Linked DNA regions of Homo sapiens: region 1 is linked to region 2. The links come from fine-mapping of genetic effects on gene expression. Tissue or cell type: whole blood. Region 2 holds a variant in brackets; the other region holds the start of a gene. All regions are shown on one strand. Distances are between the middles of the regions. Region 1 holds the start of ATP1B1 (ATPase Na+/K+ transporting subunit beta 1). Region 2 overlaps ATP1B1 (ATPase Na+/K+ transporting subunit beta 1).

What was found.
Region 1: ATP1B1 starts here. The variant in region 2 is fine-mapped to the expression of ATP1B1 in whole blood (INTERVAL, PIP 0.92).

What each region holds. Positions count from the first base shown.
Region 1 is chr1:169,105,148-169,107,997 of GRCh38, reverse strand. ATP1B1 (ATPase Na+/K+ transporting subunit beta 1) reads right to left here and starts at 1,308. Exons shown (of 6, transcript NM_001677.4): 1 at 1,072-1,308. The coding sequence starts at 1,168. RefSeq lists enhancers at 599-1,171, 1,172-1,744, 1,533-1,827, 2,318-2,850 and a silencer at 1,341-2,260.
Region 2 is chr1:169,130,502-169,133,371 of GRCh38, reverse strand. It overlaps ATP1B1 (ATPase Na+/K+ transporting subunit beta 1), which reads right to left. Exons shown (of 6, transcript NM_001677.4): 6 at 653-2,080. The coding sequence ends at 1,817. It overlaps NME7 (NME/NM23 family member 7), which reads left to right. Exons shown (of 12, transcript NM_013330.5): 12 at 555-841. The coding sequence ends at 587. Among named protein-coding and RNA genes, the nearest start is that of ATP1B1, 25 kb to the right of the region's middle. The variant A/CA (reference allele first, on the strand shown) is at 1,341.

The sequences.
Region 1 (2,850 bases), 25 kb after region 2:
TCCCAAGCAGGAACACCAATCGGCCTCTGTTCAGGACTCCCTGAATGACTGCAGTGGTGGTGCCAGTGGTGTTGGTGGTGATGGTCATGATGATGATGATGATGATGATGATGTTGGAGGAGGAGGGGGCAGTGATGCAGCAGGGGGAGTTCCCTCCCTCCTTCCCTCACGCAGTCACGACTCATAGATTCGCCTACAACTCTGCCCTTCAAAATGACCTTTTTTTTAAAAAAAAAAAAGTCACCTTTCCGGAGAGGCTGAAAACAAGAAATCTAATTTTCGATGGAAAAAAGTCTATCCAACCAAGCAACAGGCTGCACAAAATATTTTAAGATCAGCTGCTCTGCGTTTATATTCCCTTCACCATAATCAACCCAACCTACTGACTGATCCACAACTGTCTGTGTAGACCTTGAAAACAACCAGACTTTGCCAGGTTTCGGGCCAAAGCTAAGAATCGGAGTCCTGAAATGGAGCTTATTGAACCATTTCTGGGTGGTGATGACTCCAGGGGAGGTCATGGAGGGAAATCCTTAGCCATCGCTGTGAAATACTACAGTGTGGATGGATTCCTCTCCACCCTTCTCTTTCCTCTCTTTTGAGATACGTATTTAGACTAGAAGAAAGATGCTGTAACACACAACCTCGTCTGCATTAGATCCCATCACCTCACGAGGTTCTCTCAAGACCCCAGATCTCATTTTTTTTTTAAGGACTCAGGACACGGGAGAGACAAATGTAGTCTCGCAGAGCCTGACTATTCCCAGGAGTAAAAGGCTCAACCGATGCACGGTAGGAAAGACTGCAAATTACCAAGCCAAGATCGCTACGATATGCATAACCTTCCGCCTGTCGTGTTCCAGCCCCGACCCTGCGCCCCACTCTGGGGACACCGCATTCCGCACAGGACTGCAAGCCCAGGCCGGCGCGACCCAGCAGCGTCCACCACCCTCGCCCCCGCCACCCCGGCCAGCGCGGTGGGTGCGGAACCGGCCGCGGACCCTGCGCAGGGGATGCGCCGCCCGGGAAAGATCAGACGCGGCGGCCGGGAGCTGCGGACCCCGTACTTACACCAACTGCCACCGGTCCTGCCCAGAAACTCCTTCTTCTCTGAGTTCCAGATGAATTTCTTCCAGCTGCCCTCCTCCTTGGCTTTCCCGCGGGCCATGGCGATGGCGGGTCAGCAGCTGCCGCGGTCCGGAGGGTGGGTGGCTGCGGCGCGCGCCCTGGCGTCCTCTGCGCCGCTCGGCTTCTCCGGCCTGGCTCTCTGCAGGCAGGACGCGCCGCTGCCGCTGCGGCTCTCGGAGTGCGAGACGCGCGGCGGAGGAGCCAAGGCAGGAGCAGGAGGAGGGGGAGGCGGCGGCGGCGGCGGCGGCGGGGCGGGGGCGGAGGGAGGGACGGCGCAGGCTGCGCGGCTCCGAGCCCCGCACCTATTGGTGGGCGCGCAGCCGCTCGCGGGCTTTCTTTGGTCCGCCGAGCGCTCCTCTAGCCCTTGGGGGGTCGGGGGCTCCGCGAACCCGTAGCTGCCGCTCCCGCTGCCACTGGGGACGTGTGCTGGGCCCCCGCCTCCCCTGACCTCTGCAGAGACAGGCCCGGGGTAGGAGAGTCAGAGAGGGAAGGACGGACAAGCGGACTGCGGGGCGCCACCGGCACTCCCGCCAGGAGCCGAGGAATTGGCTGCGCCCGCCCTACCTTTACTATATACCGCGCCCCGGCGGCCGTGCGCCCCGCCCTCTAGCGGCCCGGTGGCCAATCGCCGGCGCCAGGGGCAGGGACTCGGCCCGAGAGGGCGGGTTCGGGGCCGGCACAAAGGAGCCGCCGGGGCTAGAGGGGCCGCTTGGATCGCTGGGCGCGGGGCGTTGGGCGCGGGGCGAGGAGGAGGCGGGGGCGGCGGTGAGGGACGCGCAGGCAGCGCCGCGCAGCCCCCTCCCAGCTCCCGGCTGGGCGTGAACCGCCCCTTCCGTGGCTGGGGGATCCGCACCTGGGTCGCCCGGAGCCTCGAGGACCCCAGCCCGGCAGTCCTGGCCCAGCCTCCACGCCTCTGCCTGCCCGCCCGCGCTTTCGGCCTCCCTGGGCTGTGGGTCCACCCCTCCTGGGCGCTGGCGGGGTGGGGGAAGGTCACTCCGGGACGCCGGACTGGCGAGGACTCTGCCCAGCTCCGCCCCGCCTCCCGCTCCTGCACCTGCCGCCCCCTCGCACTCCCCGCCACTGCGGTTGCAGTTCCGGCCCTTCCCTCTTCTTTGCAGGCCAGCCCAGCCGGCAGCCCCGGTTCCTGACTGCCCGGCTGTGCCCCTTGTGGGCGGCCTGAACCACCTCGAGCAGGACAATTGCCAAACCCACCCAGGGCGGTAGCCCGCAGTGAGTTGTCCCGTAGAAACCAATTGAGACTCAGGCCAGTCTAGACCCCAGGCAACAATATCTGCACGTGACCCAGCCACCGAGGACTTTCTTGGTGCCCGGTCGGCGGCGGGTATTCTCATTGGCATGCTTTTATGCCCCCTTGGGGGTATCGATCCCTTTGTTCTGCTGTAAAATTCTTGGAGCCAAAGGACCTTTGGGAAAACCTAGCGCATAGGGCAAGATGTTGCAGACCTGGGGCATAGAGTACCCCTTCCCACTCTTTGTCCGCTGTTGCTGGAAAGCCAAACTCTTGGTTTCATCCCTCTCCTATGAGCCCCCAAGCAGCTTTATACATCCCTCTGAGGACAGTGACACAGCAGAAAACACCGGGATGCTTCTGCTTCCACTGCAGAGAAGCCCTATCCCCAGGGGCCATCATGGCCCATCTTGACGTCCCAGCCCCATATCAGAGAATTCCCCAATACCAGGATGCTTGTCCTTATCCTGGCC
Region 2 (2,870 bases):
GGCTTTGCGAAAGGTTTCCGTTTCAGAAATACAATGCCCTGATTTTAGTGTGGGCATTTCCCATGTTAGTTAAGTGATACTAAATCTTTAATAATTATAGCTGGAAAATGTTTTTTGGAAAGCTTTTTTATCTTCTTTCACACTAAGGCTAATTTTTAAATACAGCTAAATAAGGACTTAGGCCAATCCCTGAACCAAAAAGCAAGGTATGAACCTTAATTTACTGAACCACAAACCTAACCTCATTTTTTAAAAACTGAAGTGCTAACAACTTTTTTTTTTAACACATATGTCTAGTGAAGCAATAGCAGGAACCAACACTTCATGTTTTCTAAACTGAGTGAAGTAGCAGTAGCACTGCAAGATGATTTTTTTAAATGGAACTTCAAACTGGAGCTTCATCGATTCTCTGCCTCTGATTGATTGATTAACTTTTAGTGTCTTTGGGAAGGGGTATGCCAGTGTCTGAAGTCCTGACCAACCTCTTGGACTCTGTTAAGTGGAAAAGACCAAAATTTGTCTGAACTAAGAAATTATGTGTTTCTCCGTTTCAGGTTCAATACTTCTTCAAGATCTTGGATAATTAGTGGTGTGGAAAGTAAAGAAGTCACAGGTTGGGACATTTAGACAAGAGTGAATCACACACGAGGAATGTGTTCATTCTTTTATTGTCCGTTGTTTTAACCTGACTGAATACAAGATCAACAAGAGCACTGTACTCCTGGCAATTATTACATATGTTAGAACATGGATTTTGCACTGTAGACAACATTTAACACCAGTCTATGGGGTACTGCATTGCTTTTTATAAAGTTCAAAATAAAGATTTATTTTCAAACAAGTGACTTTGGTTTATTTCATACATTACACTTTTTCTTGCAGAAAAAAATAAAATTGTACAACTGCATAAATATAAAATTCTTCCACCATGAAAATGGTTAAAACATTCATAAAGACACAGCACCAGCATGTGATGCCTCCAGAAAGGAAAAAAGGAAAGTAAAAGAAAATGTATAAAGCAAATTAATTAGCCCTGTCACTAGCCAAAGTGATGGGCAGATCCAGATCTCAGACACAGCTTTAGAACATACCGGAGGACAAGGCAAGAGATGTCAAGACAGCATTCAATACAAGCATAACACAACCCATCACCTTTTTGTGTTTTTCTGTAGTGTCACTTAAAATTTAAAGGGCAGTTCCCCCATGACAAACCCCCACCCCAGCCCCCAGGAAAAAAATAAAAATAAAGACCTAACACCACAGGAAAAGACTATGGAGTATGTTAAAAATGCTCATCGATGGGCCATTACCTTTGAAAGAGCCAAAAAACAAAAAAAAAA[A/CA]AAAAAAAAAAATTACCATGCCAGTTTTATTCCCGTTGAATATTTACACCTTGGACAGCAAACCTTGCTCACATAAAGTAGAAAACAGATACAATAAAACATGGCTTGAAAAATGACCAGAGTATGCACCTGTAGTACTGTACACTAAATAAAATACACAAGGCAGCAATACTTAGGGGCCAGAAACACTGCTTACTACAAGTCAGTTACGGAATCATAATTTACAGTAAAAATGGGCACGTCCCAAGGCTCAATTTTTCTTTTTCTTTTGTCATTTACAGTAGAATAAATATTTTGTTGCTATTGCTACACTTTAATTTACATTCTAACCTATTAAATGCAGAAAGCTAGTGTAAAGCATATAGATTAAGTGTAGGTCCCATACGTATGACAGTTTGTTCAAGACTAGTAGGTTTTTGTTTTTGTATCTTTTTTTAACTTATTAAATGGCTAGTGGGAAAGATTTGTGCTTGTGATCAGCTCTTAACTTCAATTTTTACATCAAAACGTCCCTGAAAACGGTCTTTCTCACTGTACCCAATGTTCTCACCGTACGCCTTACACTCTATGCGAATTTCAGTGTCCATGGTAAGATTGGTGAACTGTACGGCCAGCAGGGGCTGCAGGTATTTGGGCTGCAGGAGTTTGCCATAGTACGGATAATACTGCAGAGGAAAACCAGGGGAGTTGCCCAGTCCAAAATACTCCACATTTCCAACTTTATCCTTATCTTCATCTCGCTGAAATCCAGAATGAAATGAAATTTTAATGGCTCACATCATGCATCACTATGTGTACTCAAAAACAAGACTCAATCTACACAGTAGTTTGCAAACTACTGAGAGAGGAAAGAACATCTACTCAGTCTATTCCATTGCAGCCTTGAGAAATGGTCATAAGAAGAGACTATTCTCAATGTGCAAATGGATGGGGAAGCTGAGTCAAATGCCAAATAAGCATTCTTCAAGCCTCCTAGAAACAAGGCCAACATTGAAAGGCAGAAACACCTTGCTGTTGGCCCAGTAAATAATCTGTCTAGTGATATTATCTCCAAAGTTTACTACTTGCCTCTCATTTTCTTGTTGAGAAATCAATCTCCACTTCCTTGCTTGGTGCTAGCACTGTCTGGGAACTCCCTTTCTTTGTTCTGCCTTTCTCTCTAAACGGTCCATTAGTTTTTGGATCCAAAGGAAACATGCACTAATTGTTACCTTAGTCTTTCAATTTTTTTTTTTTTTTTTTTTTTTTTTTTGAGATAGTCTTGCTCTGTCCCCAGGCTGGAGTGCAATGGCGTGATCTCAGCTCACTGCAACCTCCGCCTCCCAGGTCCAAGCGATTCTCCTGCCTCAGGTCCTCAGCTGGGATTACAGGCACGCGCCGCCACGCCCAGCTAATTTTTGTATGTGTAGTAGAGACAGGGTTTCACCATGTTGGCCAGGCTGGTCTCAAACTCTTGACCTCATTATCTGCCCATCTCGGCCTCCCAAAGTGCTAGGATTACAGGCGTGAGCCACTGCACCAGGCGATATT